Linked DNA regions of Homo sapiens. Each later gene encodes a partner of the first gene's protein in a complex. Each region holds a gene or a part of one and is shown on either strand. Other genes may lie near its edges.

Evidence for each region.
Region 2: the proteins of APAF1 (region 1) and CASP9 are in contact, whole or in part, in a crystal structure (PDB 4RHW), measured with the Homo sapiens proteins. Residues at the interface, in NP_863651.1 of Homo sapiens: Thr22, Ser23, Tyr24, Met26, Asp27, Ile30, Ser31, Ile37, Glu40, Glu41, Arg44; in NP_001220.2 of Homo sapiens: Asp23, Trp26, Asp27, Leu30, Arg36, Pro37, His38, Glu41, Gln44, Arg45.

The regions. Positions count from the first base shown.
Region 1 is NC_000012.12:98,643,212-98,646,811, forward strand, and holds the start of APAF1 (apoptotic protease-activating factor 1), read left to right. Parts: upstream 1-2,078; 5' UTR 2,079-2,624; intron 2,625-3,600. Other genes in the region: IKBIP (inhibitor of nuclear factor kappa-B kinase-interacting protein), read right to left, coding at 1,312-1,490. UniProt on the Homo sapiens protein: Oligomeric Apaf-1 mediates the cytochrome c-dependent autocatalytic activation of pro-caspase-9 (Apaf-3), leading to the activation of caspase-3 and apoptosis. This activation requires ATP. Isoform 6 is less effective in inducing apoptosis.
Region 2 is NC_000001.11:15,503,417-15,507,528, reverse strand, and holds part of CASP9 (caspase-9 isoform alpha precursor), read left to right. Parts: intron 1-395; exon of another isoform or gene 396-453; coding exon 454-630; intron 631-1,449; coding exon 1,450-1,539; intron 1,540-2,770; coding exon 2,771-2,918; intron 2,919-4,112. UniProt on the Homo sapiens protein: Involved in the activation cascade of caspases responsible for apoptosis execution. Binding of caspase-9 to Apaf-1 leads to activation of the protease which then cleaves and activates effector caspases caspase-3 (CASP3) or caspase-7 (CASP7).

The DNA.
Region 1 (3,600 bases):
AAGTGCTGGGATTACAGGTGTGAGCCACCGCGCCCAGCCGTAACAAATCTTTTAACTCTGAAAAATACACTATTTGGGATGAGTCACCAGTAAAGTATAATTCCATATGTAGTAGCATAAAAAATGTCTAGATGTCCAGGGTCTCTTCTAAAATTCTATCACTCTGGAAGATTAACAACAGTCTTACTAAATAACTTTACACATGAATGAAAAATGGAGAAAAATTCTATTAAGATGCCAATCTTATTAAAATGAAATGGGCTATTCCCTCCTCCCGCCAGAAAAAAAAAGGCTGGGAAAATAAAATTCACAAGTTGGTTTTTTTCTTTTTTCTTTTTTTACGAGTTGGTTTTAAGGTTATTTCTAATATTCATTTTTCCTAATGACACCAATATATCGCCATTTACCTGATTTTAAAACTGCAACTGGTTAGTTTTAAGTGAACACAAGTGCTATGTTTTTGTAGCTTTACCATATTCAATCTGTAACTTACTTAATAAAAGACCTTAAATTCATAATGCATGCACGGTGATCAAAATATGAGCACTCCTCCAAGCTCTGCTACTATAACGTTTGCTCCTTTGGGAGCATAATGATATGGTTTTCTTTTTTTTTTTTTTTTGAGACGGAGTCTCGCTCGGTCGCCCAGGCTGGAGTGCAGTGATGCGATCTTGGCTCATAGCAACCTCCGCCTCCCGGGTTCAAGCGATTCTCCTGCCTCAGCCTCCGGAGGAACTGGGACTACAGGCGCCCGCCACCACGCCCGGCTGATTATTCGTATTTTTGGTAGAGATGGGGTTTCACCATGTTGGCCAGGCTAGTCTCGAACTCCTGACCTCAAGTGATCCACCTGCCTCGGTCTCCAAACATAATGATCTGTTTTAAGGTTGCAAGTATTTCCATTAGGTATTTATGGGGTGAGTAGGGTGGGGCAGATGTGTCCCGGAATGGGGCACAGCGGACAGGAAGTAACGGTTTATAACAACGTGAACGCTTCTGACGTGTAGCGGGAGCTTCAGAAAGCGTGGCCGAATCTGCAGCTCTTAACAAATGGCTCGTTCCCAAACCTTAGCCTCAACTCCTTCTGAGCGATAGGGGCATGCTACCAGCACGGGGGGAAATGAGATACAAGAAACGCCCGAAAGGGAAAAACAAGGCTGGGCTGTTTCCTTCCTTTGGGGTCAAGACAGAGGCACAGAAGGCCCAGGTCTGGGAGGTTGGATCACCTCCGGCTGGATGTTGAGCCGGGTGGGAGCCCAAACAGCAGGGGGCCCACAGGAGGCCGGCCCAGGCAGCCTCGCGTCCACTTACCAGGCCAGGCCCAGGCACGTCCCCAGCGACAGCAGGCTCAGGCACGTTCGGGGGTCTGCCCAGCCCCCGCCTCCGCTGCTCCGGGCCACGGGGGTCTTCCCGCCCTCGCTCCGCTTCCCGGGCTCCGCAGCAGGGGCTCCCTTGGGCCCCGACTTCTTCCGGCTCTTCACCTCAGACATGTCTGGAGACCCTAGGACGACAAGCCCAGGGCAGCTTCTTCACCAGGGGGAGCAGGACGTGGCCGCCTTGGCGTTCGTGGGAACCCTGGGCGGTGACCGCGCCCCCTCACAGACTTGGCACCGCCCAGAGCCCAGCCCCTTCCCTCTCCCCGGCATCCTCGTTGCTTCACTGAGTCTTTCAGCTGCCAGCTCCATAGTTCCCCTAGGAGAGGTGGGCGGCGACCTCAACCCACAGCGCCTTCCACTGCGATATTGCTCCAAATCCGAGGAAATTCAAACTCCCGGGCGCGCGCAGGCCGACGGGACCCGAGGAGGAGGGGCAGGACGAAGGGGTCGCGCGCGCCACGTCGGGCGCGCCGCCGCTGCCCGAGTCCGGCATTGGTGGGAACGCGGCGCGTCCCTGAGGCTTAGCCACGCCCCGTCCGCGGGGTAGGCGGGCACTTCTACGCGCGCGGGCATGAGCCGTGGCAGGAGTGCGCGGCGGCAGCGGTGGCCGCCCCTTGGGGCTTGGGGTGTGTTTATTTGCATAAGCGGGCGCGCGCCGTCCGGGCTGGGTGGATCCGGCGGGATTTGACTGCTCCGCTGTCCAGAGGCGGAGAAGAAGAGGTAGCGAGTGGACGTGACTGCTCTATCCCGGGCAAAAGGGATAGAACCAGAGGTGGGGAGTCTGGGCAGTCGGCGACCCGCGAAGACTTGAGGTGCCGCAGCGGCATCCGGAGTAGCGCCGGGCTCCCTCCGGGGTGCAGCCGCCGTCGGGGGAAGGGCGCCACAGGCCGGGAAGACCTCCTCCCTTTGTGTCCAGTAGTGGGGTCCACCGGAGGGCGGCCCGTGGGCCGGGCCTCACCGCGGCGCTCCGGGACTGTGGGGTCAGGCTGCGTTGGGTGGACGCCCACCTCGCCAACCTTCGGAGGTCCCTGGGGGTCTTCGTGCGCCCCGGGGCTGCAGAGATCCAGGGGAGGCGCCTGTGAGGCCCGGACCTGCCCCGGGGCGAAGGGTATGTGGCGAGACAGAGCCCTGCACCCCTAATTCCCGGTGGAAAACTCCTGTTGCCGTTTCCCTCCACCGGCCTGGAGTCTCCCAGTCTTGTCCCGGCAGTGCCGCCCTCCCCACTAAGACCTAGGCGCAAAGGCTTGGGTAAGTTGACCTCCTCGCTTTTCTCCCCGAGCCAGGTTCTTTGGAGGCTTGGTAGCTGATTTCAGGGACTGAGAATTTGAGGACATGGAATATTTGATAACCATCCTGCTCCTGTACCAGGAAGAGAAATTCTGTAATGAGGAAGTAGTAAACTTGGGGTTTTCGTGGATAAACGTGCGCTGTTTTCTGTTTTACGTCCATGAAGAGTTTTGGCTTTCCATTTTGTTGTGGGTTACAAAAGGTTTTGAGACTTAGTTCAGATAAGTTGTGCAGTTTTAAAACGTATTTAAGATTTGCATATTTTAGTTTAACAGGACTAGGTGAAATTGGAAATTAGTTTCAGAAAACCAGAGTGTCTTATTTGCTTAGCTATTGGACATCACCTAAAAAATTCATTCATTCTTGTTTTTTCACATCGAATTTCATTACTATAAATTAAGGAACATTTTATGTTTAAGAGGACAAAAACGTTATTAACATTTTAAAAAATGAGAGTTTTGATTCGAATCAATAACTTTTTATCAGTTTTGTGCCCCTGCTGGGCATTTTGTAAGCCTTGACAAGCATAGGCAAATGCCCTACGTCCGTCCCTGTTTTTCCAAGTGCTACATTTGGTGACTTCAAAAACAGTCATTGAAGCTTGATAATTATTGCCCCCTTCTGTGAGCTCCAAGTTACTTGTGCTCTGTTTTTGCACTTCGGGCATTCACATTCCCACTCTCTCTCTCTTTTTCTTCTTTGAGTAGACTGTGAATTATTTCAGGCAAATGACTCAATCTTTTCTGTAGTCTTGGTGTCTGACATATAGGGAGGGGCACAAATGTGTATTGAATGAATGAATTGATAAACCCGTTTAGACTCTTTCACTCTATACATTGTGTAAAGTTCTGTTAATGTTTTGAAAACTTGCAGATATTGTGAACTGGGTTTTATGCCCATGGAAAAATTTGCATTATATTTGAAATAAAGTTGCTAG
Region 2 (4,112 bases), on another chromosome or scaffold:
TTAGGCGAGAGAGAAGTTAGACAAATGAGTATATAAATAGAAATAGTGATAAGTACCATCAACAAAAGAACAGGCTGCCTTGAGAGAATTACAAGGGGACTGAGCCTGGGGAGAGGGCAGCCTTGGGTGCCTCCAGGTGGCCTGGGCATGGTTCTGCTGACAGAGTTCTCAGGTACACCCCGGCCTAGGTGACCCGTGAGGTCCTTTGGGATGAATGCTCATGGCTGTTGGATTTCCAGGTTACCAGCTCCCTTCCCTTAATACCAAGATGGGGGGGTCACCTTCTAGTGCTAGTCTTCCCTGCAGTTGCTTCTCTTTTGCCCTGGAATGCCGGGTGGAGACCCTGCTACTCCTTGTGCGAGAGGGCAGACCCCGTTTTCTTCCCGCCTCTCCAGACTGTCCTCTAGGGAGCGTGGGGAGAGCCCGGGTTTACGTGGGTCCCTGTGCTGGCAGGCTTACATCCTGAGCATGGAGCCCTGTGGCCACTGCCTCATTATCAACAATGTGAACTTCTGCCGTGAGTCCGGGCTCCGCACCCGCACTGGCTCCAACATCGACTGTGAGAAGTTGCGGCGTCGCTTCTCCTCGCTGCATTTCATGGTGGAGGTGAAGGGCGACCTGACTGCCAAGGTACACTCACTATCTGTGGAGGGAGACAGGGTGGGGGGCAGTGGGTGGGGAAGTATCTTTTGAGGGACTCCAAAAGCCAGCTGACTCCCCAGGCGAGCCCTTACATCTGGAGGACCATGGGAGGTAGGACGGCCCAGCGGCTACAGGTTCAAGTTCAGACGCAGAAGTCCGGGTTTGAGGACTGGCTCTCTCGGCCACCTGCTGTGTGACCTCCTGTGCCTCAGTTTCCTTGTCTGGAAAGCAGGAATAGTACCTGCCTCCTTGGGTTGTTTTGGGGGTTAGATGAACAGTGCCCAAGCGTAGCACCTTCTCCCCAAAAATGGTGGCTATTACGACTGCTGGGACTGTCAGCACTTCGGTACTGGCCCTGGGAAACCGAGAAAGTGCTCTGCCCAGGCGTTTGGGTTGGGCCCTTTGTTGTTTTATTTTTTGGGGGGGGCGGGGGCACAGAGTCCCACTCTGTCATCCAGGCTGGAGTACAGTGGCGCGATCTCGGCTCACTGCAACCTCCACCTCCCAGGTTCAAGCAATTCTCCTGCCTCAGCCTCCTGAGTAGCTGGGATTACAGGTGTGTGCCACCATGCCTGGCTAAATTTTTTTTTTTGTATTTTTAGTAGAGACGGGGTTTCACCATGTTGGCCAGGCTGGTCTCGAACTCGTGACCTCAAATGATCCACCTGCCTTGGCCTCCCAAAGTGCTGGGATTACAGGCGTGAACCACCATGCCTGGCCAGGCTGGGCCCTTTTATTGTTAGGAACGGTCCAGTCTGCATCTAGACCTATCCGTGCTTCTGGCTCACCTGCAGCCCTCTCTTGTAGAAAATGGTGCTGGCTTTGCTGGAGCTGGCGCAGCAGGACCACGGTGCTCTGGACTGCTGCGTGGTGGTCATTCTCTCTCACGGCTGTCAGGTAGGAAGCCTCCCACTGTTCCCTGGGCAGGCATTGGGTACTGGCCGTGCCAAGAGGCTGTGCAGGGGCCATGTCCCTTCTTGTGTCCAAAACACCCTTGGCTTTGTGGAAAAGGGCTGTGGGGCCCTGCCCACCTCCTGTTGTTTTCTTGGGAGCCATGTGGTCCTCTGAGGAGTTGGCTGCACCGTCCTGGGCAGGTCGGTGTTCCTGGGAGAAGCCCTCTGGGAGAGGGAGGGCAGAGACCAGGTCTGCTCACGAAGCTCCTGCACCCAGAGTTTGTTCAGAGGCGGGTACAGCACACATGTTGTCTCAGCTCCTGTCTCTGTCCTGTGAGGCACTGCCCCAGGCCCCTTGCTGCTGGTGGGACTCAGGACACCAGGCCCACTGGGGGCTTGGCCCCTTACGTATTTGTCACTGTGATTAAGCCCTTACCCCTTACTGGGCCTCAGTTTCCTCATCTTTTAAGTTGAGGAGTTGGACAGATCACAGTTATAAGCTGGGGCCTGGAGTCCCCCTGTGGTCTGCACGGTGTTTTGAAAACTGGCAAATTTCACATAAAAATCAGGATTTCTAGTTTCTCTTGACAAACCGCAAAGGTCTGGCCTGACGAGGCCAGCATCTTCAGCCAGTAAAACTCCAGCCTGTGGCTGGGCAGGGCTTTCCCTTTGGTCCTTTCTCTCATAATATGGTCCCTAGAGCTCATGAAGAATGTGGACTCCCAGGCCCTACCCTGGACCTCTTCATTCCAAGTCCGCCCAGCAACAAGGTTTCCAGGTGATTTCCATGCCCTTGAGGTCTGAGCTGAACTGATTTAAAGCAGCCACTCTCAGCGTTGAGCTGCCTCAGTCAGAGGGGCCTGGAGGACCATACTGCTGATTAGGAGGTCTGGGTGGGGCCCAGGAATCACATTTCTTACAAGTTCCCAAGCGATATTGATGCCGCTGCTGCAGGGGCCAAACTTTGAGAACCACTGGTCTAGAGGCCGCAGCCAGCACTCTCCAGGCACACTGGCCCCTAGAGGCACATGAGTTTGACATGCAACCCCTTGCTGTCAAGGTGTCTTTCCAGATGCTGACCAGGGTCTTTCCAGAACCAACCTGCTCTGTCTCAATCAGCCTCGTGCCCCTGGCTTTGACCTTCCAAATCCTTGGCTCCCACAAAACCTCTGAACAGGCTGTTGGATTCCTACTCCAACTTCTTGGTTTTGTAACCAGGGTTCTTGGTCTTCTAGGCCAGCCACCTGCAGTTCCCAGGGGCTGTCTACGGCACAGATGGATGCCCTGTGTCGGTCGAGAAGATTGTGAACATCTTCAATGGGACCAGCTGCCCCAGCCTGGGAGGGAAGCCCAAGCTCTTTTTCATCCAGGCCTGTGGTGGGGGTAAGCAGCTCCTCAGCCTCCCTCTGGGTGGGTCTGGTGGGGAGGGAGCCGCCACCTGCTTCTTTCTCCAGCCTGCCCCTCACAGGGCCCATGAGGTCTCTCCAGGCAGTCAGAGGGTACCACACATGGTCCCTTTTTGGCAGCACCTCTGTCTGGCTGGAGCAGGCCCTGCTCTGTCTGCTTTGTAGAGGTCAGAGTCTTCTGTTTCATGGCACAGTGGCATCATGGGCTCAAGTAACTTTGGCAGCTTCAATTCCAAAGACTTGGCAAAAAGAAAGCAGAAGAGAGAGGAGAAACCTCTTTTTATTTTTCTTGTCACCATTCTCCTGACCTCCATCAACTAGACCCCGTTTCCACTATCCCAGAGAAAGGGTGGCCACAGCTAAACTGCATGGAGAAACCAAAGAATTTAAATATTGGAATTTTCAAAAGTGTAGTTGTGGGGGTTCGAGGAACATTTAAAGATTACTTGGGCTGGGTGCAGTGTCTCATGCCCAACACTTTGGGAGGCCGAGGCAGGAGGATTGCTTGAGCCAGGAGTTCGAGACCAGCCTGGGCAACACAGCGAGACCCTGTCTCTATTTTTGTTTTGTTTTTTAAATGTATTACTTGGATTCTTTGTAGTTTTGCTGTATGCTCTAATTTTAAACTTAACTCCTATTACAGTGTTATCTGATTTTCTTATAAAAAAAGAGGGAAGAGAGACAAACATGGGGTTCCTAGTTTGTGGGTCATGACAGGAATATCAGGGAGCGCTAGAAATTCTGTCCCAGGGAGTCCCCTCTGCCCTAGGCTCTCCACGGACTGGAACATTCAGAAGGTATATCAGTTCCTTGCCTCCAGCCTGATCTGCCAGAGAAGTGAGCACTGTTATACCATAGCGCTGTCCAGCTCGTCCAGCTGTGACATGGGCACCTGTGGTCTATTTCTCCTGTGCACATCCAACTGCCCCATCCCTATTCCACGTTGGTGGAGTTGGGTGGAGGCTACCTAGGAGAGCAGTCTCTGGTCACATCATTCATCCAGTAAGTGTTTATTGAGCACCATCTGTATATACCAGGCTGTGCGTTAGGTGCTGGGGATAGGGGAAAAACAGAGTTTCAGTCTCCTGGAATTTATAATTTGACATGAACTGTATTAAGTCACTGTCATGACCCATGCCCATAACTTGACCACAAGTGATTGAGAACACTT